Linked DNA regions of Homo sapiens: region 2 is linked to region 1. The links come from fine-mapping of genetic effects on gene expression. A gene starts in region 1. The other region holds a variant in brackets. All regions are shown on one strand. Distances are from middle to middle. Region 1 holds the start of ZCCHC18 (zinc finger CCHC-type containing 18). Region 2 overlaps FAM199X (family with sequence similarity 199, X-linked).

Region 1 (16,633 bases):
GCCTTTCTCTCCATAGATTCCTGCCCAAGTTGTAGCTGTTTCATGGCAACGCCCAGCCCCCCTCCAGCAAGTGAGGAAAGGAAAGAGCAGCTGCTTCTGGAAGTTCAGTGCCTAAAGGCTCAGCACCTGGCAACTTCTAAGCCTAACCTTTAAGACCTGTAGCTATATAATAGAGCAGGGTTTCTTAACCTCAGTGCTATTGACATTTTGGGCAGGATAATTTTTTATTCTTGGCGCCTGTCCTCTGCACTCGAGAATGTTCAGAGGCTCCCTGGCTTCGGCTCACTGCGTGCCAGTAGCACCAGTAGTGACTTACACAGTGTGATGACCAAAAATATCTTGAGACCTTGCCAAATGTCCCCTGGGAGGCAAAACTGCTCCCGGCTTAGAACCACTGTACTAGATAGAATAGGCAGTGCAAGGACCCCAAACTATTGCTCCTTACCCCAGAAAGGCCAGGAAGCAGATGGCTAGTATGAGAAGCAACTTGGAAGCCAGGACATATGAAGGAATTTTGGGATCTAAAGAAAAAAAATGAATGCTCAGTGCAGATCTGAGGGAGTTTGCCAGAGAGGAAAGAGGGGGTCCCTGGCTGACGAGACAGGGTGTGCAGAAGCCAGAGCTGCCACCTCAGGGAAAGGAACAGAGATGTGTGGGTGTGGGGCAGGAGGACAGGGGAGAGGCGGAGGGGCATGATGGCCAGGACGGAGGGCTTCCATCTACAGTGACAGGGACACAAAGCTTGGCAGGAACTGCAGACCCACAAGTTTCACACAGAACCCTGGGCTATGTGATGGGGGCATGAAGGTTGGGACTCTAATTAAGCTAGCAGGCCAATGGGGAACCAGAGAGTCCAAGCTGAGGTCCCCAGGGAGGAGTAGAAGCCACACACTGCAAGAAGCCCAATGCAGCCTTCCCGAGGCTGCCAGGCCAAGAATCCGCCTTGGTGTACTACTCCTTCCAAAATCACTCCCATCAGCTCTGCTCTTCCCTAGCCCCTTCTCCCTGCTCCATCCATCTCCCCACAATCCCATTCCTATCCCCACTGCTGCATCCATATCCCCACAATCTCATTCCTATCCCCACTGCTCCATCCATATCCCCACAATCTCATTGCTCCATCAATCTCCCCGCAATCCCATTCCTATCCCCATTGCTCCATCCATATCCCCACAATCTCATTCTATACCCCCTGCTCCATCCATATCCCCACAATCTCATTCCTATCTCCCTGCCCCATCCATATCCCCACGATCTCATTCTATCCCCCCTGCTCCATCCATATCCCACAGTCTCATTCATACCACCCTGCTCCATCCACATCCCCACAATCTCATTCATAACCCCACCCTGTTCCATCTATATCCCCACATTCTCATTTCTATCCCCTTTGCTCCATCCATTTTCTCACAATCTCACTTTACCACCACGCCCCTCCCCTGGAGCCACACTCACCTCTTGGTGGAGGCAGATGGAGGCTCAGCCTCCTGTACTCTGCCCATAACCACCTCCCCCTACCCCCACATTCCATGATGGCCTTGAGCCTCAGCCTCCTTTACCCTCATAGCCAGTACACTGGGAGGACCCCTCTGCCTCTGACCCTTTAGCTGAGAACTGAGCAGGAGTAAAAACTCAAGAGGCCCACTCTTTGCATCCCTTTGGGCCACCTCTGGCCCCTGGAAGCCCCACTTCCATTTCTCCAGAGCCAAAGGGGACTCCTCCCAGATACCCAGGCTGCTAAATCTACAGAAGCCCCCAACAGTCCTCAGCTCTCCTATCAAAGATCTTCTTTCCAAAGTCTTACCTTCACCTAAATAAGGACAGGTGGTGAAGTAAATATTTGTCCTTTCTTCTACCTCAGAGTGCAATAATGTTCCATTTCCTCCCTACCATTTATAAACATGTTCACTGACACCATGAGGCAGGATGATTTAGCAGAAAGAAAACTGGGCTAGGATTTGGCAGTGCAAGGACTCCCAACTATCGCACCTACCCCAGAAAGGCCAGGAAGCAGGTGGGGTAGTATGAGATACCAGCATTCTAAGTGAGTTTTATTATCAACTTGATGTGTGACCTTTAGAAATTCAGTGACATCTTGGAGCCTTACCCATCTGAGCTGTAAATGGAGCAGAAAGGGCAAAATAATTTTTAGTCATCTCCATACTGTATCTGTCAGAGGGGGGTGATATTGGGCATTCAGGTCAATAGTTGATAGAGGAATTGTACTTTTCAATCCCCAACTCCTTCTGCCATTTTTGTAAATCATTTTGGGGGAATAAAGGTGAACAATAATTGAGAAACATCTAACCTTAATATGTAATCCATTTTATAAATCCAATCCTTTCCATTTTATGGGAGGGGAGTTCGTGTTTCTCCCATGTATTTTCTGTTAAGATGCCAGGCTTTGGAAAGGGCAGACAGACCCGAGACTGAATTCTGCCTCTGCCACTTAGTTGTGTGACCTTGGAAAAGACATTTCATTCAGTCTCAGGTTCTTCAGCTACAAAACAGGGGTATTAAGATCCACCTCAAAACGTTGTGGCAGAGATTAATAACATAAAATGAGACAAAGTGGTTGAGAATCCATAACATGGTGGCCTTGATAAGAAGGATCAAAAAAAGATGCTTCTGGACTTCACTATCTGTCTCCACAGAACGCATGCTCCTTCTGGATGCTCTCGGGACAGCCATAACCAGATACAGGGGCATTTGGGAACAAATCTTCTGTTCCCAAGGGAGGCAGGGAAGCCCTTACTTCCACAAATAGGAAGGTGCAACATAAGCAATCTAGGAGAGCCTGGCCCCTTCACATGAATTCAAAGTATAGACCACAGAATGGACCTAGAGTTGGCCTTAAGCAGATATCACCTGTACCCTATGACCTGCCTCCTATGTTTACAGCCTAGTAAAATGAGCCCAGAGGATTCCAGACTCTCCCAGCCAGTCTAGTCCACATGGGTAGACTGTGTGACTGCCCCAGGATCCAGCCACAAATGAATGCATTTGTCTGTTCATTCAGGGCATCTCTCAGCCAGTCCTTTGGTCTGCTCACAAACATGTATTGATCATCCACTAAATCATTGTGGGTAAACCACCATAGAGCTAGAGTGAATAGAACTTGGTGCCTGCCCTCAAGTGCTTAGAAATCTAGTCAACTAGCTTGGGAGACAGGTCAACAGTGTGCTAAACTCTACAGAAAGACAAAATAAAGGGTACAGTAATGAAGGTGGAAGCAAAAAGACAACAGCAATTTATTCCACCTGAGAAGGGGCATATGACTCAATCCTTAATTGAGTAGAGTAGAATAGGCTGTTGTTAGGTAGGGGAGTGAGGGCAAGCATTCTAGGCTGAGGAAGTGGCCTAAGGCACATAGGCTTAAGAGTGTGAGTTGTGCATGGGGCTGGCCTACCCCATGTGGTGAGAAGGAAATAGAGCTGTGGTTGACAGAGAGAAGCCCATTTAAGATGAGGACCACATTTGTCTTCTCCGCTGCATTGTGTTGTAGGGCACAGAGATGGGCTCTGGATACAGGCAGCCCTGGGTTTGAATTTCACTCTGTCACTTCCTAGCTTTATAACCTTGGCCAAGTTTCATCATCTCGCTGATCCTCAGTATCCTTATATGTAAAATGATTGTCATGAAGGATGCATGAGACAAAGTATGGAAAGTGCTTAGCACAGCACCTGGTATATAAGTTGCTTCATAAGTTATATTAGCAGTTTCATTTTTTAAAAATGAGATAATAGGAATAAAGGCAAGATAACAATTAAATTGTTCTAAAGGCTGCAATTGGTCTAATGAACTGGGTTATCTACAGAATGCATTTTGGACTGCTTGTTTGGAAGGCAGCAAAGAAGAGTTTTCATGGGCTTTGGAGTTCGACATCCCTGGCCTGCAGTCTCAGTGCCTCCACTTACAAGTTGTGAAGCCTGACACAAGTTACTTAATGTCCCTGAAATTCAGTTTCCCTTTCTGCAAAATGGGATACAATAGCTGTCTCAACAGGGTTGATAAGAAGCTTAAAAGAGATAACAGACAGAAAGTTCCTGGCACAAAGGAGGCAGGCAGCCAAAGGCAGCTATTATTGTTTCAACTGAAAGCTTTATCTCCAAACCTTCAAGCTTTTAAGGTTTATTTGTTGAAATTAGAAAATGTGGTCTCATTAGAGGCATCAGTTGGAACACACTCATACATGTGAGGCCATGTCCTGTATCCAATTGAAGCCAGGTTGCAAATACTACCCCCATCCCTGCATGAAGAGTCCCTCGCTTTGTTCTAGTAGCCCAACCCTGGCACCTTTACACAATCCATTTCCTGTCATTATTTTTGTCTGAGCTCTGACACCTATTCTTGGTCCTATGTGATTCCATCCCTACCAAGTCCAGCTGCAAATACCTAATTTGGTGATAAAGCCAATTTAAACACTGAACAAGACTCTTCTGGGAGGTAAGGGTCAGATGTCACGGGATGGGGGAGCAGAAGCAAAAGTCTGAAGGAAACCTAAGAGCAACTGCCAGCATCACCCCTAAGTGTGTGAGGTGAGCAACTTGCCTTCTCCATACATCCACACTTTCCAGCCTCCACCACCACTACCCCACTGTTCCATCCACAGACCATGATCCTGAGATGGAAGGTGCTTATCTCCAAATTTTTATTGTTTACTCCAAGGAACTCTAGATCTTGGGGTTGTAAATAAGAGGGCGGAAAGGAGCAAGTGAAGTACCTTGGCAGACTGAAGATGAAGCCAACAGCAGCGGAAGGGCATCAGACTGTTTACTTGCTTCTAAACATCAGGAGTCAAGAACAAGCCCCACAGAAGCCTCCTAGCCACACTATACATAAAGGAAGTAATACCTGCTCTCTAAGTCAGGGAAAAATGGAGCAGGTTTTCCAGCCACTGCCTTCATGGCCATTCACTTTGGACAGCCCTGCATGCCGTTTCCATGGAGTTGCTCCTTCTCTGGGGCCAGTGATGCCAAATCCAGCAAAGGAGAAGTACCCTGAAGAGCTCACAGAAGGGCAACCTAGCAACCTGTCCTTGAGCCAGGAAATGAAAGAGCCATATCAGCAACAGAGAGCTGTGGTTTGGGGGTTAGGTTAAATGGGGTTTTATTTCTCACACTTCTTCATCAAGCATGGCTTGAAGAAGGAAGACGTTATGACAGACCCATTTGAAAATCTGCAAAGCTGTGGGCTCAGAAGAATGTACGGAGTCCAGATTCTTTGCATACAATTCCAGGAAGGACCTCGGGTAGGAACCTGTGCTCTGGAGTTACATTTCATGACAGATATGCCATGGACAGATACACTGATGGCAGGCCCATTTACTTATAACCTTCAGCATCACGTGGTGGTGTTTAGAAAAGTGGTTCATGAATCTCTCTACACCTCAGAATCAACTACAGGGCTGGTTAAAACTACAAATCACACTCTTCACCCCTAGTCCTACTACATCAAAATCCCCCAGGGGTAAGGCCCAATAATCTACATTTATAACAAGCTCTCCAAAATGATTCTGAGGCAGCTCACCTTGTACTCACACTTTGGTTAATAGCATGAGTTCTGGATTCAGAGACTCAGTTCAAATTTTGGCTTCACCTTGTATTTTCAGACAAATCATTTTACCTCTCTGAGCCTGGCCTCTTTGGGGTCACAAAGGGCTGTCGAAATTATGTTGCTTTTATAAAACAGGCAGCTTGTTGTGTAAAAAGAAAAAAAAAGAAGAAAAGAAAAAAAGATTAATAAAAAAAATGAAAGAAAGAAAAGTACCAAGAAGAGTTTCCTCTTCTGTACAATGGGCACCATAAAGGTTGCCCTCATCTTCCCTCAGCCCTCTCCCCACTACCTCCTCACCCCCTCCCTCAGCACTATTATCACATTGAGACTGCTGTTGAGATGGTTTGAGACTACCTGTGCAAAAATACTCTCCAGGCAGCGCTGCAGGGCAACGAATTAGCATCTAGAGAGCAACAGACGGTGCTAGGTTGGATGCTGTAACTTATTTGCTGCAGGATACAGGCCAAAACTAGTAACCTGTCTCTCTCTGGCTCAGTTTCTTCATCTGTGAAATGGAGATAATGGTTCTTGCTCACCAATTCTATGCAATCCCAAGTTGGTCCTCCCATCTGGCTTTGGTTTTTCTCCACTATCCCTTAATCTGACAGAATAGAGGAGTGCTGGCAAGGGGCAGCCTTTGAAGTCAGACATGGTGACTTGGGTGTGAGCTCTTAACTCTGCACTTCCTAACTGTACTGCCTGGGTGCTTCAGTCCTTTCCTGTTAAATGGGCACACTACTACCTCCTTCACACGGCTGCTGAGAAGAGGAAAGGAGATGTCCATGCAGGCGCCTCTGCACACAGAAAGCACTCAGTAAACGCTGTTTCCCCGCTTCCCCCTATACAAAGGTGAGGAACTCTCATTGTTCACTTGGTTTCTGTCCCACCTCGTGTTTAAGGTATCCGGTCTAAAAGCCCGGAGGAGAGCCGAGGTGTAAGGGGATAGGGAGAAGGGAAGAGATGGGTTAGCAGCAAACTCACGGATGAAAGGGAAATGGGCCCAGTCCGTGCGTCCGAGCTGCTGACGCCGTGCCGCCTCCCGCGCCTGTCTGCCGCAGCCCCCGCCCGCCGGCCCGCCGGCCAGCCGGCCCGCTCCCCCTTCTTGCTAGCAGTAGCTTCGGGGCCGGAGGCTGTGCGGCGAGGCCGCCCCCTCGCCCCGCTGATTGGCCGCGTCGCCCGGCCCGTCACGCTCTTTTGTCTCAGTCGCCAGAGACTGAAAGCAACCGCGGCTGCCCGGAGGGCCGAACTGGAGGGTGGGCGCAGCCTTGGCTGCCTTGGGAACCGTGCTGCCTCGACTCGGCTACCCCTCGCTGGGCGGTCGTGCGCACTCGCTAGGTCGGGCAGCCCCGGGTCGCTTAGCGGCCGAGGAGGCGGCAGAGATCCCGTTCCCCTGCAGAGCTACGGGGACCGGAAGGCGAAACAGAGCTGTGGACGCGGGAGCACATGCTGCCCACCAGTGGAGCACAAGTAAAGAAAGAACGCGCGATTGCCCGGCGCGGAGAGGGGTGGGGGAAGCCCCGCCAGGACTGGGCGGCGCCCGGCTTGGAGAATCAGTAACTGCGAGGCAGGGGATGGAGCACTCCCTTGGCCTGGTTGCGCTGAGGAAGGAGTTGTGGTTCATCTGGATGCTGCCGACTGGATAGGATTTAGGATTTGCCTGGATTAAGGTGGGTGGGGGTGTTGTCGTAGGTCGGGGGTGTTGTTGGGTGTCGGGGGCGGGGTGTGTTCGGGGAGGTGGCAAGGGGCGGGAGGAGACGATCGCAAGCTGTCTTGAACCCCTTTTGCATCTCCTCATCTCTTCCTGGGAAGGAATATGAGGGTGGGAGGTTATCCAACTTCTAGTCTCTTTCTCCCTGGCAGGTCATCAAAGCCGAATCCGAACTTGAATTCTGTGCGGCGGATTGCAGAGCTGGTAGGGCGAGGGTCTCCCGGAGGAAATGTAAGGGGGATGCGCGGGAGGGCAGGAGGCACTTTGGCTTGCGTTCAGAAGATGGGAGAGGGAATTTTCCGCCTGGCGACAGTGGAGGCGGTGGAGGGGAGGTATCAGGTTTTCAGATGAAGCTGCTTCCAACCCTTCCTTTCCCTCCTTCGCGGCACAGTCTTGAGGCCCTGAGGACTGGGATCTGCGACACCCAGTGGACAAAAGTCGGCCGTACCCCAGAGGCTAATTTTCTCACGGCAGGCACCTGTTGCAGAGGCTGCACGTAAAATAAAGGCGAACGCTAGTTTCCGAGCTCATGTAAGAATCTGAGAAATAACGGGGGAAACGTTGACAAGGGGGTGTGATTGAGACCTGAGGCCATGAGGTTAATGGTTTCTTATTATCATAAATCTGTGACACACAACCATTGAGTTCCGTTTTGAGGGCCCAGTATCAGCTCCCAACACTATGTCATCTAGAATTAGAAGCAACAGTTGTCGCCCCTCCTGGAGTACAGGCAGGAGGGGATGGATGTGGCTCTGAAAAACTACCTACTAGCCCAGGGACACCTGCTAGCTCTGGAATGTTGTAATTGCCAGTCTCCTGCAGGGTATTGTTAAGGCACTGGGCAGATATAAAATGCACTGCAAGGCTATTCAGGAAGATAGAGAATGCTACTGCAGACTGCTTCCCCACAGCCCACTATCTTATTAACCTTTTTTACTTTCCTTAGAATCCCTACTGAAATATAAGGCAGGCACAGCCCAGGAACGTTGCTTTGGAGAATCCTGCAGATAAGGCTTTTCCAAAAAGCGCGAGCATCTTGTTGTATTCAGATACCCTATCGTCGTCAGTCATGGCTAGCATCACTGCGTGTGTGGGTAACAGCAGGCAGCAGAATGCACCTTTGCCGCCTTGGGCCCATTCCATGTTGAGGTCTCTGGGGAGGAGTCTCTGTCCTTTAGTGGTCAAAATGGCAGAGAGAAACATGAAGTTGTTCTCAGGAAGAGTGGTGCCAGCCCAGGGGAAAGAAACCTTTGAAAACTGGCTGATCCAAGTCAATGAGGTCCTGCCAGATTGGAGTATGTCTGAGGAGGAAAAACTCAAGCGCTTGATGAAAACACTTAGGGGCCCTGCCCGGGAGGTCATGCGTTTGCTTCAGGCGGCCAACCCCAACCTAAGTGTAGCAGATTTCTTGCGGGCAATGAAATTGGTGTTTGGGGAGTCTGAAAGCAGTGTGACTGCCCATGGTAAATTTTTTAACACCCTGCAGGCACAAGGGGAGAAAGCCTCCCTTTATGTGATCCGTTTAGAGGTGCAGCTCCAGAATGCTATTCAGGCAGGCATCCTAGCTGAGAAAGATGCAAACCAGACTCGCTTGCAACAGCTTCTTTTAGGCGCTGAGCTGAATAGGGACCTGCGCTTCAGGCTTAAGCATCTTCTCAGGATGTATGCAAATAAGCAGGAGCGGCTTCCCAATTTCCTGGAGTTAATCAAGATGATAAGGGAGGAAGAGGATTGGGATGATGCTTTTATTAAACGGAAGCGGCCGAAAAGGTCTGAGCCAATAATGGAGAGGGCAGCCAGCCCTGTGGCATTTCAGGGCGCCCAGCCAATAGCAATCAGCAGTGCTGACTGTAACTGCAACGTGATAGAAATAGATGATACCCTTGATGACTCTGATGAGGATGTGATCCTGGTGGTGTCTCTGTACCCTTCACTGACACCTACAGGTGCCCCTCCCTTCAGAGGAAGAGCCAGACCTCTGGATCAAGTGCTGGTTATTGATTCCCCCAACAATTCTGGGGCTCAGTCTCTTTCTACCAGTGGTGGTTCTGGGTATAAGAATGATGGTCCTGGGAATATTCGTAGAGCCAGGAAGCGAAAATACACAACCCGCTGCTCATATTGTGGGGAGGAGGGCCACTCAAAAGAAACCTGTGACAATGAGAGCAACAAGGCCCAGGTTTTTGAGAATCTGATCATCACCCTGCAGGAGCTGACACATACAGAGGAGAGGTCAAAAGAGGTCCCTGGAGAACACAGTGATGCTTCTGAGCCACAGTAAGGATCTAGTCCAGCCCTAAATGAGTCCTTGACTGTATTCAGAGTCTGGTAATGGGAATAACAGGAGAGGGGGGTGGGTTTCTAACTGCATGAATTAATCCACAAAGCAGTTTTCCTTTGGGAAGGAGAAGAGGTCTTGCATACCAGCACAGTGGATGGGGAATGGTGTGACCTCTGTCCCTGCTCTCTTCTCTGCTGGCTTAAGGGTCTATTCTCCATGTGTCTATTTCTTTGATGACTTTATACTTTTTATGAAAGGAGCATCTTTTCATTAAACCTTCAAAAATAAAGGAAGATACAAAAACTAAAGTACAAATTACCTGAAACTCAGCACCCTTTTGTAACCATTGTCAGCCCTTTGGTGAATGTCCTTCCAGATATCTCCCTGTACCTGTGTACCCAGATAGATATATGTATAGATAAGAGTGACCAAATATAAGTGCTGTTCTATACTGTGTATTTTTCACCAAATAATGTATCTCGTGGACTTCTATGTCGATGAATATATATAAATATCTAACTTCATGTCTCTGTGTGATGTTACTTTTAGAAAGATAAAGAAAAATGAAACTAAATATAGAAGCTATAAGGGGGGGTCATACCATGAGGAGGGGTTTTTATCGACCTCATTTATAGGAAAGGAGAAAGGAAGCTGAAATGGACTGAATATCTCCCATACAACCCCTTAACACAACTGACCTGTCTCCTAGGTCATAGAGCCAACCCCTGCACCCATGAGTTAATAATGTTCCAATGTTTTCTTCTTGAACATATCATGAGACATCAGATGGGGAACGGGGGGGGGACAAAAATTGAAAATGGGTATTCCAGAGGCTCCATTCCTGTTTGTATTGGGAAGGGACAACTACTCCTGCCCGATCTCTTGACCTCAGATTAGAGGGTGATAAAAGATGACATGTGACCTCTATCCCTGAGGGTCCCAAGTTTCTGGTAGGTACAGTAGTCCCTATCTTCACGAAGAGGTCAAAACTGGCAAGGAGCAGGGGGGAATGATTTCATTTAAGGCAAGGAGTGGAGTGAAATGAATGCAGACCTGAGGACCTGAGGGAGTTTGCCTGGGAGGAAAGAGGGGGTCCCTGGGCTGACAAGACAGGGTGTGCAGCAGCCAGAGCTGGCACCTCAGGGAAAGGAGCACAGAGCTATGTAGGTGGAGGACAGGAGGACAGGGGAGAGGGGGAGGGGTATGATGGCCAAGCTGGTGGGCTCCCATCTACAGTGACAGGGACAGGAGGCCTGGCAGAAACTGCAGACCCACAGGTTTCACACAGAACCCTGGGCTATGTTGTAGGGGGAGTGGAGGTTAGGACTCTAATTAGGCTAGCAGGCTGATGGGGACAAAAGGGTCTAGGCTGAGGCCCCCAGGGAGGAGTAGAAGCCACACACTGCAAGGAGCCCAATGCAGCCTTCCCGGGGCTGCCAGGCCCAGAATCCACCTTGGAGTGCTCTCCTTCCAGAATCACCTCCAACTCTGCTCTTCCCTGGGCCCTTTCCCTTGCTTCATCCACATCCCCATAATCCCATTCCTATCCCCACTGCTCCATCCATATCCCCACAATCTCATTCCTATCACCCCTGCTCCATCCATATACCTACAATTACATTCCTATCCCCTCTGCTCAATCTATATCCTCACAGTCTCATTCATACCCCCCTGCTCCATCCATATCCCCACAATCCCATTCAGTTCCCCCCTGCTCCATGCACATCCCCACAATCTCATTCAGATCCTTCCTGCTCCATCTGTATCCTCAGTCTCATTCCTATCCGCCCTGCTCCATCCATATCCCCACAATCTCATTCAGATCCCCACTGCCCCATCCATATCCCCACAATCTCATTCATATCCCCCCTGCTCCATCCATATCCCCACAATCTCATTCAGATCCCCCCTGCTTCATCCATATCCCCGCAATCTCATTCCTATCCCCCTTGCTCCATCCATTTTATCACAGTCTCACTTTACCACCACTCCCCTTCCCTGGAGCCACACTCACCTCTTGGTGGAGGGAGATGGAGGCTCAGCTTCATGTGCTCTGCCCATCACCACCTCCCCCTCCTCCGCATTCCATGATGGCCTTAAGCCTCAGCCTCCTTAATGCTCATGGCCAGTAGACTGGGAGGGCCCCTCTGCCTCTGACCTTTTAGCTGAGAACTGAGCAGGAGTAAAGGTCCAAGAGACCCACTTTTTGCATCCCTCTGGGGCACCTCTGGCTCCTGGCAGCCACCTCCATCTCACCACAGGCAAAGAGGACCCCACCACCCACGCAGGAGGCAGCTTCATCAAGCCCCCAAAGCCACAGGGTCCCCCAACACTACCTGGCTCTTACAGCCCCCTATTCCTCCCTACCTCTCCCAAAGTCTATCCTTGGAGGGGATTTGCCCACTCATCTCTCCAAGATTAGAATATAGTTCCCCTTGCTGCTCACCTTTTCTCAAATTCACTCTATAAATGCTATTGAATGATTTACCTAGATATGCTGTCATAATTTCTTTCTGAAACCAGGTAGAGTGAAAAGAGGAATAAATGCTACACCTACCCCCATCCTCCTTTTCACTGGAGTTAGCTTGGAGGTTCAAGATCATTACTTTGAAACCCTGCTGTGTAATTCATCCCCTTTCCTTCCCCCCCATCCTGTCCTCTGTTGTGTAAACCTGAAACTGTCTAAATTTTTACTTCACCAAAATGATGCAAAAGTGAGACTTTTTATTTCATTTTGTGTCACACTGGCTTTCCTTTATTCAAGAAGTATGTATTTTCCCTAATTGGAAGACAAAGAAGACTTGGAGTGATTACAGGGTTAAGTGAAAGAAGGCTTTTAAAAAATTTTGTGTTTGATACCCTTCATTTATAATTATTGTTTTTCCTTTCCTTTCTCCCTTCATTCTCATTAGTCGCCAAGAGATGAAAATTGCTCTTTTGTCTTGTCAGGAGAAACCAGCCTTTGAATGACCTCCTTTTGCAATATCTCCCTCCTTCTTGATACTATTTTCCCTTGTTTCCATGACATCCATCTCATGGTTTCCCTCTCCCAGATCTTTTTGATGCCTACTTCTCAGTGTCTTTTGCCGAATATTCTTTCCCTTCCTGATCCTTCCACAATAGCAATAAAAATTAAAATCACTGCAAGTGCGATTTATTCCAAGCTTATTACATGCCAGGCACCCAGTGCCAAGCCTTTAAAATGCATTATTAGCTTTTCATAGCAACTCCCTTAAGATAAGCATGACTTTCTATTTCTAACTTGCTATTAATTTAATTACTATTAATTGACACATATTTCAGATGATGAAACAGGCTGGGAAGTTAGGAAACGTACTTAGGGTCATGTAATTATTTAGTGGTACAGTCAAGGATAAGACACTGGACTGACTGATCCCAAAGTCTGTGTTCCTTACTTGAGTTAGCCATCATGTGCACAGCACCCCATGAGGTAGGTGTTACTATTATATAAAGATGATACATGAGGAAAGCAAGGTCAACAGACATAATTAGCCAAATATCATAGCAGCAAGTGGCTTGTGCGCCATACACAAGGATGCAGCCTTTAAGGAATACTTGTGTGACACAGGCCACCTTTCTTTCACATCCTCTTGTTGCAGCTATCCTTCCTGCTGCCTGGCAACCATCCCCTCCCCCTTCAGAGTTGCATTATCACATTCAGTTCAGGTATCAAGTTTCCAGTCTATGCTTTTGGTGCAAATGGTTTTGAATTTGATGTATGCAAGAGGAGACAGCTGCAACAATGAGTGGAGGAGAGATAAATTGTTCAATTCATGGTGCTGGGGGGAACTTCATTACCTGATTGGAAAAAAGGTCAGTTTCCTTTCTCCCATGACACTAAATATGAATCCCAGATACATTTGAGCAGTAAATGTAGATTTTATGCAATTATGTATTAATTCTTCTTTAATCGTATATTTTGTTATAAAATGAATAAAAAGAATCAAATGTTCAAAAGCAACCCCTTTTAAAGCTGCAACACAATACATGTTAAACCTCTGGGTTGGAGAGAACTTTCTATGGTTAAGAGTAATGAAAGAAAGTATAAAAGAAAAGACTGATAACTCAGAAGACAGCATTAACAGAAATAAAATACCAACAGTAAGCTGAGAAACATTGGCAACAAATATCATGGAAAGGGGGCAGGGCTGGCAACAAATAAGAGAAGCAATAATAACAGCAAATCTGTATTGTGTTTAGATAGTTAACATTTATTAAGGTCTTACAAAGTGCCAGGCATATTCTACAAGCTCTACATGGCTTTATACTTCATTTCATTCTTACAACAAGCCCTGAGATAGATCTTATCTTAAAATTTCCACATTCTAAAACACTCTTTAAGCGGGGGGCGGGGGGAGCAGAGGAAAGTGCATAAAATATAAATTTACAGCTTAACAAATTATTATAAAGCAAATCACCATAAAGATCAAGAAACAGAACAGATCAGAACTCCAGAAATTCCCATAAGTCCTTGCCCAATCACAACCTCTTTCCTCTCTCCAAAACAAAACAAAACACTCTCATGACAGTTTTAGCTGTTGCTTTCTTACTTTCCTTTATAGCTTTACCACTCAAATATAGATGCCCAAACACTACTGTTTCTGGAGCTTTATGTAAATAGAACTATAATGCATATATCCTTCTATATCCAGCTCATTGCCCTTACAATTATGCTTCTGAGATTCAACCTGGTTGCATGCGGCATCGGTTCATCATTCTCAGTATTGTGTTACAGCTTTCCATTCTACGACTTTACAAGAAATTATCCTTTTACTGTCGGTGGACATTTGGACTGTTTCCAGTTGGGGACAATTATGAAAAATGTTGCTAAGAACATGTTTTTAATGTCTCCTGGTACATATGTGCACACACAAGGTATATATGTAGGAGAGGAATTGCTGGCTCATAGATTGTGTATATTTTCAACTTCACTAGATACCACCAAACTGTATATCAAAGTTGTACCAATTCCCACTTCCACCATCAATGTTTGAGAGTTCCTGTTGCTCCACATCCTCACAAACACTTGACATTGTCAACAAAGCTTCATAACTTTTGCTTGAGGTTTTGTACGTCTATTATTACATTTAGTTCAAGGTAATTGTGTATACTACTATAAATTAAATATTGGTTTAAATTTCATTTTCTAAGGGCTTGTTGATGGTATATAGAAATATAACTGGTCTTTTGATGTTGATATTGTACACTGACTTTGCTAATCTCTTAATAATTTTAATCTGTAGCTTCCTTAGAATTTTCTGCATACACAAGCATGTCATCTGTGAATGATGGTAGTTTTATTTCTTCTTTCCCAATCCATATACATTTCTTTTTCTTACCTTACTGCATCGACTGGGACCTAGAGTACAACTAGTGAGAAGAGACATTCTTGTCCTATTCCTGAACTCAAGGGACCACTTTGAGCAATTCAACATTAAGTGGATGCTTGCTGCAGGTTTTTAGTAAATACCACTTATCAGTTTAAAAATGTTTCCTTCCATTCCTAATTTACCATAAGTTTTTAAAATAATCAATGGATGCTGAATTTTATGAAATGCTTTTTCTGTATCTATTATATATGCTTTTTTCTCATTTATTAGTTAAAATGCTAAATTACATTATTTGGGTTTCTAATAATAAACCAACCAGGCATTCCTGAAATAAACAAGATTTGGTCCTGATTTATTACAATTGTTATATATTGCTGGATTCAATTTGCTAATATTTTGTTTAGGATTTTTAGATCTATGTCTGTAAGAGAGATTCACCTGTAATTTTCCTTTCTGTATAATGTCTTTGTGAGATTTTGGTATCAAAGGTTTGCTGGCCTCCTAAAACTAGTTGAGGAATACAATTCTTCTTTGGCTTTCTTCATTTAAAAACCAGGCAACTGAGGTCCAAGGTGTTTAGATTATTTTTCATAACTGCATTAAATCCAATTATTTACTTGTATCCATGATTTATTAAACCAGCCTCTTTAGAGCCATTCATTACCTTGTTTCCTTGTTTCACTGTTATAAACCCACTGAGAAAAGCATCCTTATTCACATACAGGTTTGCACATGTGAACGATTATTTCCTGAGGATACATTCCTAGAGGTGACGTTACTGGAACAAGCACTATGTTTCACAGGAACCAGAGCAGAAAGAGAGGTGGCCTGTGGCACATCCTACTTTAGTAGCTCTGGCTCACATTCAGGGCCCTTCCTCATCTCTTAAACTTGCTGGGAATACCCTTTAACTCTGAGCTACTAGAGACTTTAATACTTAATAATATTTAAAGGTCAACTCAGCTCTAAGAAACTCCCCAAATTAAGTTTTCAAATGATTTGGCAGGAGGAGCGGGTTGTTTTTAACATTTTCAATGGAACTTTCCAAACCCACATGAAATTATAGAAAATGAATGATGAATCCCCATGTACTCATCATTCAGCTTCAAGAATTATCAATATGTTGCATAATTTGTCTCATCCCCCACATTTTGATGAAGTATTTTAAAGCAATTACTAGACATCACATCAAATGGTATGATATATATATATATATATATATATATATATATATATATATATATATATATATATATATATATGAACATAGATATTTGGTAGAGATGGCAATCGCACTCTGTTGCCCAGGCTGGTCTCAAATTCCTGGCCTCAAGTGATCCTCCCGCCTTAGTCTCCCAAAGTGCTGGGATTACAGGTGTGAACCATCATCCCTGGCCTGATTCTTCTGTATTCTACCCATAGTTCTATCCCCCCTTTTTGTTCCAAAATTTTCATTGTGGTAAAAGTTACAAAAAATTCACCATTTTGACCATTTTAAAGTGTACAATTCAGTGGCATTTAGTACGCATTCCAAATATTTTTTATTTGTATATGTCTTTATTCTGAGTCCATTTTTCCAGAGGTTTATTAGTTTTTTGTACATATTTAGATGTCTGATTTCTTTTTTTTGTTTTTTTTTTTTGTTTTTTTTTTGAGACAGAGTCTCGCTCTGTTGCCCAGGCTAGAGTGCAGTGGTGTGATTTCTTCTCAGCAGGTGCAGACACTTCTCTGAAGACC
Region 2 (16,633 bases), 89 kb after region 1:
CATTTGTGGTTAGGTTATCTAGCTGAGGCTTTTAACAATGGAGCAGATAATGTCTGTTCCTGTAGTGGATCCATTTAATTTCCTATTTGAGTACTCTCACTTAACAAGTATTATCTATTCTGAACCTTTGTGTTGGGAATTTAAGGACTATTGTCAAAGGCTATTAATGGTAAACAAGTATATGCAAAACAATTCACATATGGGTAAAAATTTCAAATTGTGGGTTTTTGTTTTTGCTTTTTAGTTTCAAAGATTAGTTATGTAGCAGCAATATCATAACCAAAGCAAGTAGGAAGTTGACTGGTTTGGAGAATCTTCAAGTAGTTTTAAATACTGTAATGTATCAGATTGTTAACCAGGATTTTTTTTTCCTGTATTACTGCTAAATATATTACTATATTAATGCACTTTTGTATATATAACTGTCTTCTGTACATTCTGTACTTACTACAGTGTATATAAAGCCTGTTTTCCCTGAAGCTGTGAGGGAATAACAATAGTTGTATCATAAGTCGTTTCTATTTTGAGTTCCTTCTTGTACTTGAAAGTAGTTCAGTAGTGAAATCTAAATGAGTGTGTATGGTTGTAATTAAAACTGGCAATGTGGCAGAGCTGTCTTTTGAAACTGAATACCAGAATGAAAAGTGTTGTTTTGGTTAAGAACTCTTATAATATATTATTTCTTTTGATGTACCCTGAGTTGTTACACAGCCCACTCACTGCTGCTTACTACTTTATACTTCTGAGTCAGCTCCTTTCATGCTCTATCCCAGAATATTTACCAACAGAGGAGAACTGCTCCCTTTTCTGTTTCTCACAGTTTGGTTATGGCTTTATAAACTTTTATTTGGTGAAAGCCCCAGATACCCAAATGTCATTGGCAAAACTTATTTTTTTTTCTGGACAGATCAGATTTCTAGAGAGAGCAGATTTCTAGAGAGATTAGCATTCATAGTAAGTGAAAATTGTCTAATTTTTTTAATCCATGCTATTACTGGGCAGTAGGTCTAATTTTTTTTGACAAAAAATAGATCTATTTTCCTTATATATTGATTTAGAATCTTAAGTTAGAATTTTATAGAAGAAATGTCTGAGCAGTTCTATGTATGGAGGAGCAATTCAGCTTTTCAGCAGCAACTTTATCTTTTGCCACTAGAGGGAGATCTGTGGTTGCTTTCTCCTTTGGAGAATAGCTGCTTTGCTTTTATTTTTAATTTCTAAGGTTGGAATAGAACTTATTCTCAAAATTCCTTTAGTGTTATTAAATATTTTCATTTATTAGTCAAAGGTAAGTTAATTAAGCTTGTTTAATGATGCCAATCTTATGCTTTTCTGTAATCTTCAATTTTTAATAAATGTGAGTTAGATACTAAGTGAAATGTGCGTGTGTGTGTTTCTTCTCTTAGGTACTCTAGAGCTCCATATGTGGCTAGTGACTACCATAATGGGCAGTGCATAATGTACTATCCATTATGGTAGTCACTAGCCACATATGTCTATTTAAATGAATTAAAGTTAAGTAAAATTTAAAATGTAGTTCTTTAGTCTCCTTAGCAATTCTTCAAGTATCCAGTAGCTACCATGTGGCTACAGGCTATTTACTGTATTGAAAAGCATGAGATGTAGAACATTTCCATCATCACAGAAAGTTCTGTTGGACAGTGCTGCTCTAGAGATTTGCTGGTTTATGTAGTGATCATTATCATCATTTTATCAGTGAACAGTAATTAGTGGCTAAAAAACTGCTGCCCACAGTTAACTGTTGTAGGTGATTGGTGTGAGAGGGAGATTAAACTTTTTCTTTTTTTTGAGACAGGGCCTCGCTCTGTCACTCAGGCTGGTATGCAGTGGTGTGATCATAACCCACAACAGCTTTAACCTCCCAGGCTCAAGCGGTCCTCCCACCTCAGCCTCCGAAGTAGCTAGGACCACGGGCACATGTCACCACACTCAGCTAATTTTTCAATTTTTTGTAGAGATAAGGTCTCTACAAAAAATGTTTTTTGTCTAGGCTGGTCTCGAACTCCTGGGCTCAAGCAATCCTCCTGCTTTGGCCTCCCAAAGTTCTGGGATTATAGGTGTGAGCCACTGTACCCAGCCTGTATTTCATTTTCTGCTTCATTAAAGCCACTACCAAATTTGAGAACTTGGTGGTTTAGTGGAGAAATTTATCATAGTGACCATTTCATTTGACTATGAATAAGATTTAATGTTTGAATAATGTGAGAAGTTTGGGCCAGTTTCACAGATTTTATAGTTGCAGAGTGCTGCCATGCAGCTTTCTCTGTGAGTTAGTCCTTCGATGCAAAAAAAAAAAAAAAAGCAATTATAAATGACAGTGCTGTGACACAGAACTGAATACATTTTAGAAGACTCCAGTTGTTTAAAACTATGCTTACAAATAAGTAGAAACGTGAATTTCGGAATCATCCCCTCAGTGTTTGTTTGTTTTTTTTTTTTTGGAGGGAGGTGAGTGGCGATGGAGTCTCACTGTGTTGCCCAGGCTGGGGTGCAGTGGTGCGATCTCCGCTCACCACAATCTCCACCTCCCGGGTTCAAGCGATTCTCCTGCCTCAGCCTCCCGAGTAGCTGGGACTACAGGCATCCACCACCACACCCGGCTAATTTTGTATTTTTAGTAGAGACAGGGTTTCACCATGTTGGCCAACGTGTTCTTGAGCTCCTGACCTCAGGTGATCCACCCACCTCGGCCTCCCAAAGTGTTGGGATTACAGGCGTGAGCCACCGCACCCGGCCCAAAGTGTTTTTTAATAATTCTTGTGAGAGCCTTCATAGTCACTGTTACTTGAGTTGGACAATCCTCTGCCCTCTCACCATCAGTTTGGATCTCATGGTAAGTGAGATGTTTGTATTACAGTATCCTTGTTTCTTAGTAATAAGTTGATAGATACTAGATTTAGGTATAGTGTTGCTTCTCTTTGTAATGAGCAAACATTTTAACATTCCAGTTTATTCCTTTGGTTACCAGGATCCTGTTACATGCTTTTTTATCTTAAAAATATGTATTTAGATTGGATTTATGTATTTTCAACTTTGTATTATAAAGAATTTCAGCTGGGCGCGATGGCTCACGCCTGTAATCCCAGCAATTTGGGAGGCCAAGGTGAGCAGATCACTTGAGGTCAGGAGTTCAAGACCAGTCTGCCAACACAGCGAAACCCTGTCTCTACAAAAAAAAAAAAAAAGCCAGATGTGGTGGCACACACCTGTAATCCCAGCTGCTCAGGAGGGTGAGGCAGGAGAATCACTTCAACCTGGGAGGCGGAGGTTGCAGTGAGCCAAGATCACGCCACTGCACTCCAACCTGGGCGACAGGGCGAGACCCTGTCTCCAAAAACAAACACACAAAGAATTTCAAGTAGAGAGAACAGTAAGATGAATCCACACATACCTGTATCTACTTCAACTCTTCTCACAGACAATCTTGTGTCTTTTACTCCCACCTACCCACTCACCTTACCTCAACTCCCAGTGATACTAAAGCAAACCCCAGGTGACATATTTCATTTTTTAACATGTCAGTATATGATTTTTAAAAGGTAAGGACACTTTTATTTTCTTGGAGACAGAGTCTCACTCTGTCACCCAGGCTGGAGTACAGTGGCGCAATCACAGTTCATTGCAGCCTCGGCCCAGGCCCAAGCAATCCTCCTTCCTCAGTCACCCAAGGTATTGGGACCACTGGGACCACTGATGTGCACAACCATGCCTGGCTAATTGTTTTATTTTTTTTTAGAGATGGAGTCCCTGTGTTGCCCAGGCTGATCTTGAGCTCCTGGGCTCAAGTGATCCTCTTACCTTGGCCTCCCAAAGTGCTGGGATTACAAGCATGAGCCACCACACCCAGCCTTCCCATTTTATATATAATTATGATACCATCATCATACCTCCTTATTTATTATTTATTTAAATATACCTTGTTTATTTATAAATAAAAATAGTTCTGTAATATCAAATATCTGGTCTACCTATTTGAAATCAAAATCATAACCATTGTGTTCATTTCAAAATCATCAAGATTATAACCATTTGTGTTAATTTCAAAATCATTCTGCATTTTGCTAGCACCAAGGTAGAATAGTTATTTTTACTATTACTTGATAGGTCCTGATGGTGTCTTGAGCACATTTTAATTGAAAGTGAGGTATCTATTATTCTTAGATAAAAACATTCCAGTTGTTTTCCTCACTACTTTGTTGTTAAAGCCACAGGATAATTTGAGTAGCAGGCAGGAAAGTAACTGTTCAAGATAAGCTGAGCCAGGTATTTTCTGTCCCACCTTACCTCTGGGCTTAATAATTTTCTTTTTTTTTAGCTGAAATCGGCCCACATGTAACAGATTCAAATACCTAGTATTTATTTTAAAAAAAAATGTAAGGATCCCATGGGGAATATAAGGAAAAATAGACATTTCTAACCTTTTATTTATTAGAAATTAAATCTTTTTTAACAGATAAAACAGAGACTATTGGTTTTTGTTTTGCATTTTAACTTACCAGAGTATACTTTTCAAATAAATTATAAAATTTGAGAACTTGAAAGGACTTTGGAGATCATCTGTCTTGGTTTTCGAACTTGAGCAGTGGATCAGAATCCCCAGGAGGGCTTGTTAAAACACTGATAGTCAAGCTCCACCCCCAGAGATTCTGATTGAGTAGGTCTGGGGTGGGGCTTGGGAATTTGCATTTTTAAAACAGGTCCTATGTGATGCTGCTCATCCAGTGAACACACAGAACTATTGATGCAGCTCAGTCCCTTCTTCTCCCTCCCTGCAAATGAGAAAATTTACACTAGGAGGAAAGTTACTTCTTTGCCCAAAACTGGTTAGTGATACAGCCAAATCTAAATCTAAATCTTGAGGTGACTTACCCCAAATCCAGTGCTTTTATATGTTTTTTCCCTTCAGAGTAGTTGGCTCCAGAAGCTTTCTTTCGAGTCTCCTCTGCATATGTGAATTTTCTTGGTAGTAGTAAATCTTTTGTCTTTCTAGGGCAGAAGTTACTAACCTGGAGTCTAGCGATCAAAATTATTGGCAAAATTTGTTTGCTGATATGTTTTTCTAGGGAGGGTTTTGTATCTTTTATCAAGTTCTCAAGTGAATTTCCTTCCCCCTAATGACTAACATTGTGTTTTTAGGGCACTTTTGGTTTTTGAAAATAACCAAGGGTCATTTGGAAGCTGTCTGGTGGTTGATGTGAGTGAGAAATCTGGAAATTTCTGGATTTGGCCAATGAGGTATAATTTTTAAAGTAATTACGCT[GT/G]TTTTTTTTGTGTGTGTGTATGTGGCCTTAAAACTGGTGTTGATACATACTAGAGTTCCAGAAATATCTTGGGCAAGACAGCATTATTGGACTAGGTGTATCAGGGTGACATAGAATGGGGTGATACTAATTTGGATGTATTAGCTCTGGCTTATTGATTTAAAAGAGTTTTCATTGCTTTATAATCATAAAATGTACTCTAGAGAAATCTTTCACTAATGTTTTAGAAATATTGGGTTAGATTTCCCATAATCACTTACCAAATCCGAGATAACAGAGCTAGTTGATCATCTGAAAATTTGAATGAGATATAGGCTTTTTGATTTAATGGTCATTAAATCAGTCTCTTTATTTTGCAGATGAGAAACTTGAGGCCCAGAGAGGTAAAGTGCTTCATCCAGATCACATGGCTGGTTGATGACAGATTAAGGGCTAGAATCCAAGTCTCTGGAGGTGTATCACGCTGCATATGTCATGCTGTTACTTTTCACAGTGGTTTGCACACTTGTACAACTCACACCAAGAAACTGGGAGAAACCACCCTAAGATTTTGGTATAGAACAGTGGTCCCAGTATGTGGACCATCAAAATCAGCATCACCTGGCAATTTGTAGGAGGTACAAACACTCAGGCCCCAGCCTAGACCTACTGAGTGAGATGTTCTGGGGGAGGGGCTCAGCAATCTGTGTTTTTTTGTTTGTTTTTTGAGACAGGGTCTCACTTTGTCACCCAGGCTGGAGTGCAGTGGGGCGGCCACCACTTACTGCAGCCTCAACGTCCTGGGCTCAAACAGTCCTCCCCCCTCAGCCTCCCAACTAGCTAGGACTACAGGCATGTGCCACCATGCCCAGCTAATTTTCGTATTTTCATAGAGACAGGGTTTCCCCATGCTGCCCAGGCTTGTCTGGAACTCCTGAGCTCAAGCAATCTGCCCGCCTCATCCTCCCAAAGTCCTGGGACTACAGGAATGAGCCACCGCACCTGGCCAGAAATCCATGTTTCAATAAGCCTGCCAGAGTATTCTGATGGACATTTAGATTTGAGAAACACTGATATAGAGTAGTGTATCTTTGGCTGAACATCAGAATCATCCGGGAACTTTTAGAAAACACTGGTGCCAGGCCGGGCATGGTGGCTCATGCCTGTAATCCCAGCACTTTGGGAGGCCGAGGTGGGCAGATCACCTGAGGTCAGGAGTTTGAGACCAGCCTGGCCAACATGGTGAAACCCCGTCTCTACTAAAAATACAAAAAATTAGCCAGACGTGGTGGTGGGCACCTGTATTCCCAGCTACTTGGGAGAATAAGGCAGCAGGATTGCTTGAACCCAGGGGGCAGAGGTTGCAGTGGGCCAAGATCATGCCATTGCACTCCAGCCTGGGCTACAAGAGCAAGACTCTGTCTCAAAAAAACAAAAAGAGAAAATACTGGTGCCTGATGTTCCCTGTCCCTCACCCAGACAAATTAAATTAGAATCTCAAAGGTGAGGCCTGGGTATTTATTGTTTTATAATAAACATTCTATTTTGGAATAATTTTAGATTTACAGAAAAGTTGTTACAGATAGTACTGAGATGTCCTGCATACCTCTCACCCAGTTTTCTTTAATGTTAATATCTTAATGTAATTATAGTACATTTGCCAAAACTTTGAAACTAATGTTAGTACATTACCGTTAACTAGAGACTTTATTAAGATTTCACTAGTTTTTCCACTAATCTCCTCTTTATATCCCAGAATCCAATTCAGGATCCCCTTGCATTTATGTCTCCTTATCCTCCTCTGGTGCCTGATGTTTCTTAGTCTTCCCTTTCTTTGCTTTTTTTTTTTTTTTTTTTTTGAGATGGAGTCTTGCTTTGTCGCCCAGGCTGGAGTGCAATGGCGGGATCTCGGCTCACTGCGACCTCCACTTCCCGGGTTCAAGTGATTCTCTTGCTTCAGCCTCCCAAGTAGCTAGGATTACAGGCGCCCACCACCATGCCCAGCTAACTTTTTTGTATTTTCAGTAGAGACAGAGTTTCACCATGTTGGCCAAGCTGGTTTCAAACTCCTGACCTCAAGTGATCTGCCTGCCTCAGCCTCCCAAAGTGCTAGGATTACAGGTGTGAGCCACCATGCCTGGCCCTTTCCTTGCTTTTCATGATCTTGACCAATAGGAGAATTGGTCAGGTATTTTGTGGAGTATCACCCCTCAATTTGGGTTTGTCTGATGTTCTCATGGTTAGACTGGGATTTGGGGACTTAAGGAAGATTACCATAAAAATGAAGTGCCATTCTCTTCACCTCAAAGATATACTGTCAACATGGTTTAACACTAGTTATGCTAACTTTTATCACCTGGCTAAGATAGTGTTTGCCAGACTTCTTCATTGTAATGTACTATTTTTCCCTTTCTGTACTCTGTTCTCCAGAAGCAAGTCATTCAGTCCAGCCCACACTCAAAGGGGAGAGGAGGCTCCACCTCCTGAAGAATGGAATATCTACATATATTATTTGGAATTCTTCCATATGAAAGATTTGTTTCTTCTGCCTACTTATTTATTTTTATTTTTATTTTATTTTTGAGACGGAGTCTTGCTCTGTTGCCCTCCCAAGATGGAATGCAGTGGCGTGCTCTTGGCTCACTGCAACCTCTGCCTCCCAGGTTCAAGCGATTCTCCTGCCTCAGCCTCCCAAGTAGTTGGGATTACAGGCATGCACCACCATGCCAGGCTAATTTTTGTATTTTTAGTAGAGAGGGGGTTCCACCATGTTGGCCAGGCTGGTCTCGAACTCCCGACCTCAGGTGACCCGCCCAGTTCGGCCTCCCAAAGTGCTGGGATTGCAGGCGTGAGCCACCGCACCCAGCCTTTATTTATTTATTCAGTCATTCATGTCAGGACAGATTAATGGATGTTTATTTTATACTTTGGGTTGTAACCAAGTACTGTTATTTTGTTACTCAAATTTTTCCAGCTTTGGACATTAGAAATTCTTAAAGCTTGGCTCCAGTGTCCCTTTGACCTGCCCTCATCCTTTTGAATTTTGAGCAGTTCTTTGCTTTCTGGCACTACACGATGCCCCAGCCCTAGAGTTAGCCATTTCTCTAAGGAGCTGAGCACCATTTGATTCTTTTATTTTGACATAGGCTCACACTCTGTCACCCAGACAGGAGTGCAGTGGTGTGATCATGGCTCATTGCAGCCTCAATCTGCTGGGCAAGCAATTCTCCCACTTCAGCCTCCCTGAGTAGCTGGGACTATAGGCGCAAGCCACCACACCTGGCTAATTTTTCCATTTTATTTAGAGACAGTGCCTCGCTGTATTGGCCAGCCTAGCCTCAAATGCCTGGGCTCAAATGATCCTCCTGCCTCGGCTTCCCAAAATGCTGGGATTACAGACATGAGCCACCATGCTTGGCCCTGAGCACCATTTTTTAAAAGACTTTAGGAGATTTTAATGCAGAATAAGTGTGGGAGCCACTGATTGAGGATGAGTCATATTCTTCGGTAGACCTCCTAATGCCCTGATCAGACCAAATTCTTATTAGGTATCCTCAAAAAATTTAGTCATCTTTGATTCATTCCTCCCCCTCCTTTACCTTCATGTTCAATCTTACCACCAGAGCTGTTTTCTCCTCAGGATCTAGAGCAATACTCCTTAAACCTTAATACACATAGGTACTTGTTAAAATGCAGATTCTGATTCAGTAAGTCTGTGGTAGGACCCCAAGATTCTGTGTTTCCAGCAAGTATCCAGGTGATATGAATGCTGGTGATCCATGACCCACACTTTGAGTGGCAGCAAGGGTCAGAACAAAGTTCAGACAACTTAGGACATTTCAAGAGCCTCCGCTGTTTGCCTGGCCTCAATTTACTTAGTGCATTTGTTCATTTACTCTACACTCAAACCAACCAGTCTACTCAGCGTTTGTGGTCTGCAGCTTCTCATGTGGCTTCTAATGATTGTGGCAATTCATGCCCTGTATAATTCCCTTCCCTTGGGTGTGGGCTGGACCCAGTGACTTGCTTCTGATCAATAAAATACAGCACAAGTGAGGCAGTGTAGAAAATTGTTGTCTTGCTCATGCAATCATTTGCTGGCATTCTCTTCTGTCCTCTCGGTCGCTGGCTCTGATAAAGCAAGCTGCCATGCTATGAGATGCTCTGTGGAGAGGGCCACATGGCAAAGAATCATGGAGGAGGCCTCTGGCCAACAGCTTGTGAGGAATTGAATCCTGCCAACAGTCATGTGAGTGAGCTAGGAAGTGGATCCTTCCCAGTAGATTCTTGAGAAGAGTGCAGCCTTGTGAGACCTGAGCTAAACACCCAATCTAAGTAATGTCCGATTCCCGACCCACAGAAACTGCAAGATAATGTGTGTTGTTTTAAACTGCTAAATTTTGGGGTAATGTGTTATGCAGTGCTAGGTAACTAGTACATCATTTACTAAAAATATACAATGAAATGACTTCCTCTTGCATCCTTTTCATCGTGCAAAGGAAAACTCATATGCTGCTTCCTCGTTCATTTATTCAGCAATATTTGTTGAATGTCTACTAGGCACTATGTTAAGCACCATGAGATGAGTGGTAAAGAAAAACAGATACAGTTTCTGCCTTCACACAACTTACATTCTTTTCTTTTCTCTTTTTTTTTTTTTCTTTTTGGAGACGGAGTTTCGCTCTTGTCGCCCAGGCTGGAGTGCAATGGCGCGATCTCGGCTCACTGCAACCTCCACCTCCCAGGTTCAAGCGATTCTTCTGCCTCAGCCTCCCAAGTAGCTGGGATTACAGGCACCTGCCACCAGGCCTGGCTAATTTTTGTATTTTTAGTAGAGACAGGGTTTTGCCATGTTGGCCAGGCTGGTGTCAAATTCCTGACCTCAGGTGATCCGCCCACCTTGGCCTCCCAAAGTGCTGGGATTACAGGTGTGAGCCACCACACCCAGTCTACACAGTTTACATTATTTTGCATAGGTTTTCAGTTTCCCAGAAGAGGGAACCAATATGCATTTCATTAAAAGAAAGCTAATTTTAATGCCAAGAAAGTAGGAAGGACATAATCTAAAGAAGCTGTGTGGAAACTTTTCTACGTTGTTATATTGATCATTTTGCTACAGACCAGTGAAAAGTTCATTATAGACCAGCACAGGCCACATGTAGGCTGCTGCTTCTAGGCACTATTCAAATGTTTATGTACCTTTATTCAGCTTGTATGTCATTCTGCCTTACAATTAAGAAGGTTTATTTGTCTTTCCCACTAGTCCACATTTTCATTTTTACATCCTTGTGGTTCCTTGTGCCTGTGTAAAGAACTTTGTTAATTTGATATTATTAATAGCTTTGTCAATCTGAGATTAATGGAGATTTCAATTCAAATAGGTTACTTTAAAAACCCTAACACCATCGGGGAGTACTTACTGAAAGCTTTGTAAATCCCTGTTCCTTTCCAAATGATTTTGGTCATGATAATGATACTTACTAAGGTTACAAGTTCCAGTCATCGCAAAACAAAGCAAAGCTATTTAAAGGCCGATGAAATGAAGATAATTTGTGATTCTTAAGTATCTTATTGACATGTATTAAAATTCTGGACTAGTTATCTTAGTATTATATTATCCAAATTTTATCTGTAATGTATGTCATTTTATATATCTGCACAACACCCGTATGATAAAAATGTGCCAAAATATATATAAGGGGATCATCATTTGAGCTTAATTGCCCACAAATTTTCTGCATACTCAGATACTTATGTCTGCTTATAGCTAGAATAAACTGATTAGCTTATAAATTTAGAGCTTCTAACTGCCTTGCAAGGGAGAAATAGTCTCTCAGTGAGCCTGGTAACACTGATTTGTGATTAATTGTTTTACTTAGTTGATTCATCTATGATCACAGTACAACAAAAATGTCACATTCACTTAGCAGTGTTAACTCCATTTACCTCGTGTGCATTTAGAAAACTGCCTTGTCATCAGTATAGTATGAATATGTCTAAATAAGATAGTTATTGAAAGATTTATTTCCGGCTGGGCATGGTGGCTCATGCCTGTAATCCCAGCACTTTAGGAGGATGAGGCGGGAGGATCACTTGAGGTCAGGAGTTCAAGAACAACCTGGCCAACATGGCGAAACCCCGTCTTTACTGAAAATACAAAAAAAATTAGCCAGGTGTGGTGGTGGGCGCCTGTAGTCTCAGCTACTTGGGAGCCTGAGGCAGGAGAATTGCTTGAACCTGGGAGGCAGAAGTTGCAGTGAGCTGAGATCATGCCATTACACTCCAGCCTGGGCAACAGAGTGAGACTCCATCACAAAAAATAAATAAATGAATCAAAATAAAAATAAATGAAGATTTATTTCCACTGGGAGTATGGCCATTTAAAAACGTCCTAAGGGCTGGGCGCGGTGGCTCGTGCCTGTAATCCCAGCACTTTGGGAGGCTGAGGAGGGCAGATCACCTGAGGTCAGGAGTTCAAGACCAGTCTGGCCAACATGGCAAAACCCCACCTCTACTAAAAATACAAAAATTAGCCAGGCATGGTGGTGTGCACCTGTAATCCCAGCTACTTGGGAGGCTGAGGCAGGAGAATCGCTTGAACCCAGGAGGCGGAGGTCACAGTGAGCCGAGATGGTGCCACTGCACTCCAGCCTGGGTGACAGAGTGAGACTCTGTCTCATAAATAAATAAATAAATAAATAAATGTATGTTTTGGGCCGAACGGGAATGAAGGTGGGCAGACACTTATTAGCCCTTAAACCACTTTTAAGCAATATAAGAGTCAATACTTAAAAGTCAAAAATAAGATTATATATTAGGAAAAATTAAAAGCATAGAATCAAGCAATACTGAGGGAAACCACTGCTCTCACAGACCTTTAAGACAAAACACTTTAGTATCAGGCCACGACAAAAGTCAGAACAAGAGGAGAAAAAGTCACAGAAGTTGACAAAAAAGCTAAAACAGAGAGCCATCATCTCCAGCATTTTTAAAAGAAGAGAGCAGAGAATAGTGAGACAACAGTTGACCCTCTGAGACATGAATCCAAGAAGCTCCAAAAGGCACTGGTTATACCATTAAAAGCAAAATTTCCCATAACTCAGCAAATTAATACCTTAAGATAACCCAGTTTATTAGACAACAGTCTTTTATTAAACAGCACAGCTCCTCACAGAGCAGGGCTAAATTGTAGACAGTGCACCCACAGTCAGCAATGTATGGGCTCTTAGCGACTGTATTTATACTCACTTATTCCCACTTTCAATTACATGCAAATTAAGGGGTGGGTTAATGCAAATTGAGGGGATGTCTTATTAAGAACTTTCTAAAAAGAGATGGTAACTTCTGGGTTGTTGCCATGGTGTTTGTAAACTGTCATGGTGCTAATGAGCAATGAGGGCAGCTCAGGATCACTTTAGTTACCATCTGCTGGTTTCTAATGGTTTTTTCATTTCATCCTGTCCGGACTGGAAAATAAGGGCTGGCAGTCTCCTACCTGAGAAAGGTGTATGTTTGCCAAAAGACATATGCTAGAATATTTATAGCAATACTATAATATCCCCAAACTGGAAACTAATCAAATGACCAACAGGTGCATGGATAGATTAATCAGGGTATATTCACACAATGGAATACTATACAATCTTGATCATGAATTATCTACAACTATACCCAACAATATAAATCTGTCTCACCAACATGATGTTGAGCAAAATAAACCAAATACAAAGGAGTACATAGTACGTGGTATTAAAAGAAAATTAAAACTATGTTGCTAGGACTAGGATAGTGGTTACCTTTATGGGTCTGGGATGCCTGTAATGACTACAAGGGTATTTAAGGGGCCCTTCTGGGGAACTGGTAATTTTCTACTTCTTGAGATGGCTGTTGGTTAGTTAAATAATGTAGTCTACTTGTAGAAAGTCAGTGAGCTGTACACTAATGTGCAATATTCTGTATGTATATTTCAATAAAATGCTTCAAAATGAGCATTTAAGCCAGAAGGCAATGATTGCAGTCAAAATATTCTAAGGGCTTATACAAGGTCCTTAATTACATTAAATTTTAATTTTATTTCAATGAATATTTAAAATTTTTATTTTAAATTTGAATTTCAAGGATTGTTTACTGAAAATAAAAGAGTAATTAACTTCCAAATCTGTAAAGGGAAAAAATGGAGCAAGAAAAAAGAATCTTTAAAATCTAAAAAAGGCAAGAAAAGAAAAAAAAAAACCCACAAAGTGGGATGAATAGAATGCACAAAATGGCTGAAAGAAAATCAAATATATTTTTTTAAATAACAATAAATGTGAAACAACTAATGTTAAAAGATTATATGATTAAGTTAAGGGAGAAGAAAAGCAAATGCTCTTTGTAATCTCTTTGTAATAGACACATCTAAAACATGAGGACCCGTAAAAGGTGAAAGTCAAAGAACGGGAAAAGGTATATCAGGCAAATAATAACCAAAAGAAAGGTGGTGAAACTACATTCACAACAAGCAAAATAGACCTGAAGGCAAAAAGCATTACTAAAAATAAAGAAGGTTGTCACTATGTAATGATAAAAGGTTCAAGTCACTAAAAGAATATAGCAGTTCTAAACTTGAATTTGCCTAACAACATAGTTTCAAAAATATAGAGAGCAAAATTTACAGAACTACCAGGAGAAATTGACAAATCTACATTATGGTGGGAGTTTTAAGCACTTTTCTCTATTTTTAGATTGAACAGATAAAAATTCAATAAGGATATAGATTTAAACAACACAATTACTAAGCCTAATTTAATGGAATGTATAGAACACAATCCCAATTATTACAGAAGTCTCAAAAAGCCCACACAGCATTTTTACAAAATTCGACTGCAGACCAGGCCTTAAAACATGTCTGAACATTTTTTTTTAAATATCATCAGGGCACATTTTCTGACCACAATGCAGATAAACTGGAACCAATAGAAAATAATAATTAGAGAAAAACACATCTTTGAAAGTTTGAAAATGTACTTCTAAATAACTCATGGGTCAATGAAGAAGTAACAAATTTAAAAATACAGCTGAATAAAAATGAAAGTACTATCCAACAAAGTGGTGCGCAGCTAAATTATCTCATGGGAAATGTATAGTCTTAGATGCTTATAAAACGAGAAAAGGCTTCAAAATTGATTATTAACTGTATAAATGAAGAATTCAGAGACAGAACAACAGAATAAAACTAAAGAAAATATAAGGCAGGTAACAAGAAAAATAGGAGCAGAAATGAGTGAACCAGAAAACACTAAATAGAGTCATTTTTGGCAACTCCTTTTTTTTTTTTTTTTTTTGAGAGAGAGAGTCTTGTTCTGTTGCCCAGGCTAGAGTGCAGTGGCGCGATCTCAGCTCATCAGCTCACTGCAACCTCTGCCTCCAAGGCTCAAGTCATCCTCCTGCCTCAGCTGGGAATACAGGCACGCGCCACCATGCCTGGCCCCTAACTCCTTTCTTTAACTCACACCCAAAACCCACTCTGTCAGCAAATCCTGTTGGCTCTACCTATAGAGTTTTCCAGAATCTGACTATTTCTTACCACTACTGTTGTTACCACTGAAGTCCAGGCCACCAACACATTACTTGCCTTTAGACTGTGATGCAGGTTTGACCCGTGACAAAGGAAAGTGGGAAGAAAGGAGAATTGGGGAGGAACAGCCTCACATTGCAGCATAGCTCTGAAAAAAATCCCAGCCAGCCAAGTAGGGAGCTCTGGTGCAAAGCTCACCCATGTGTAAAGATTGTCCTGTGCTGGCCATAAATGGTGAGCCATTGTACCACCATTATGTTCAGTCATAGGCTGAGAACTACCTGGGAAGCACATGGCCTTGACTCTAAAACTGAACAGACCCTAAAGCAACCTGCAACTTGAGGCTGTCAGATAATTGCACCCCTTGACTAGTTTCTCTCTTGAAGGGAGATCTGAATGGTACACCTTCATGTCTGCCATAGTAGGCATTTTTCTTTGATATAATCACAGAAGACTCGGGACACTTAGAACAGGGCTTGACAAATTATGATCTGTGAGCCAAATCCAGCCTGCTGCATGTTTTTTGTAAATAAAGTTTTGTGGGAACACATCCATGCCTCTTCATTTATTGTCCATGGCTGTTTTTGTGCTACAATGACAAAGTTAAGTAGTTGTGACAGAGACCATATGGCCCCCAAGCCTAAAATATCACCCTTTACAGAAAAGCTTGCAGATTCCTAATGTGTAAGGCACTATCGAATCTATGAAGCTATACATTTGTTAGGAAGAGTAAGACATATGCACAAATCCTTAACAATGCCAGCGCTATCTTATAATTTTTATTCTTTCTACTACATGTAAGCCCTTTGTGTGTATAGAAGGAAGTATTTAAGAAGGGTAGTTCTATGTTCCGATTTAGGCTTTCAGGTTTATTGTGACTGCTCTATGGAGAAAGTATCATAGGAAGGCAAAGATAAAAGCAGGGAGACCCGCTAGGAAGCCATTGGTATAGTCTAAGCAAGAAATGATGATAGTTTGGATTAGGATGACGGTAGAAATGGAAAGATGACATCTTATGAGATGAGGAAAAGTTAAGAGAAATTGGGTATTGTGGGAATCAAAGATTCATTTTTGACATGTTGAATTTGAGATATGCAAGTGGAAATATCAAACAGATCATTAGATATAGGAGACTGAAGCTGAGAAATGATCTGGTTGAAGATGTAAATTTGGGAAACAGCATATAGGTAGTATTTCAAGGTAGGACTGGATGGGATCATATAAGGAGAGAATGCAGATGGAGAAGTGTTTCTCACAACCAAGACTTGTGACAGCAAATTTCAGATGTTGGAGAGAGGAGGAGAAGTCAGAAAAAGTCCAGGCTAGTGTTTCTAGAGAGAGGGAGTGTGAAATGCTGCTGAGAGTAAGATGAGGAAGAAAAGGGTCCACTGCATTTGACAATATGAAGATTGTGGTGACCTCAAAATTAAAAAAAAAAAAAAGAAGTTTTTGTGGAATGCTGATGGACAGAGGCCAGAATGTGGTGAGTTTAAGAGAGAATGAGAAGCAAGGAAGTGAAGATAGCCAGTATAGAGACAACTCTGTTGAGAAACCTTACTGTGACAGGGAGCAAAGAAATAAGGTGGTAGCTGGAGGAGGCTGTGAAGTCAAGGGGAATCCTAGAGTCTTTTCGAAGGCTTTTAAGTAGAGTGGTGACCCCATTATAATTTGAAGAAGACTGAGCATCCTTACCTTCTTTTGCAGAAGAGAACTTACAAAGACAGATCCAGAAGAGAGAGAATTAGGGTCTCAACTATGGCAATGGCCATGAGGATGGCAAGGGGGGAACAGATGCATTCTTCACTGTATAGAAGCC

Evidence for each region. PIP is the estimated chance that this variant, and not a neighbour inherited with it, causes the effect.
Region 2: its variant is fine-mapped to the expression of ZCCHC18 in whole blood (TOPMed, PIP above 0.99).

Annotation. Positions count from the first base shown.
Region 1 is chrX:104,105,779-104,122,411 of GRCh38, forward strand. It overlaps ZCCHC18 (zinc finger CCHC-type containing 18), which reads left to right and starts at 6,745. Exons shown (of 3, transcript NM_001143978.3): 1 at 6,745-7,223; 2 at 7,417-7,468; 3 at 7,656-10,064. The coding sequence starts at 8,334. The coding sequence ends at 9,545. The region is part of intron 1 of SLC25A53 (solute carrier family 25 member 53); the gene reads right to left. It overlaps LOC286437 (a long non-coding RNA gene), which reads right to left. Exons shown (of 1, transcript NR_039980.1): 1 at 16,527-16,633. RefSeq lists an enhancer at 5,029-5,268 and a silencer at 6,466-6,695.
Region 2 is chrX:104,194,524-104,211,156 of GRCh38, forward strand. It overlaps FAM199X (family with sequence similarity 199, X-linked), which reads left to right. Exons shown (of 6, transcript NM_207318.4): 6 at 1-1,379. Among named protein-coding and RNA genes, the nearest start is that of FAM199X, 36 kb to the left of the region's middle. The variant GT/G (reference allele first, on the strand shown) is at 5,282.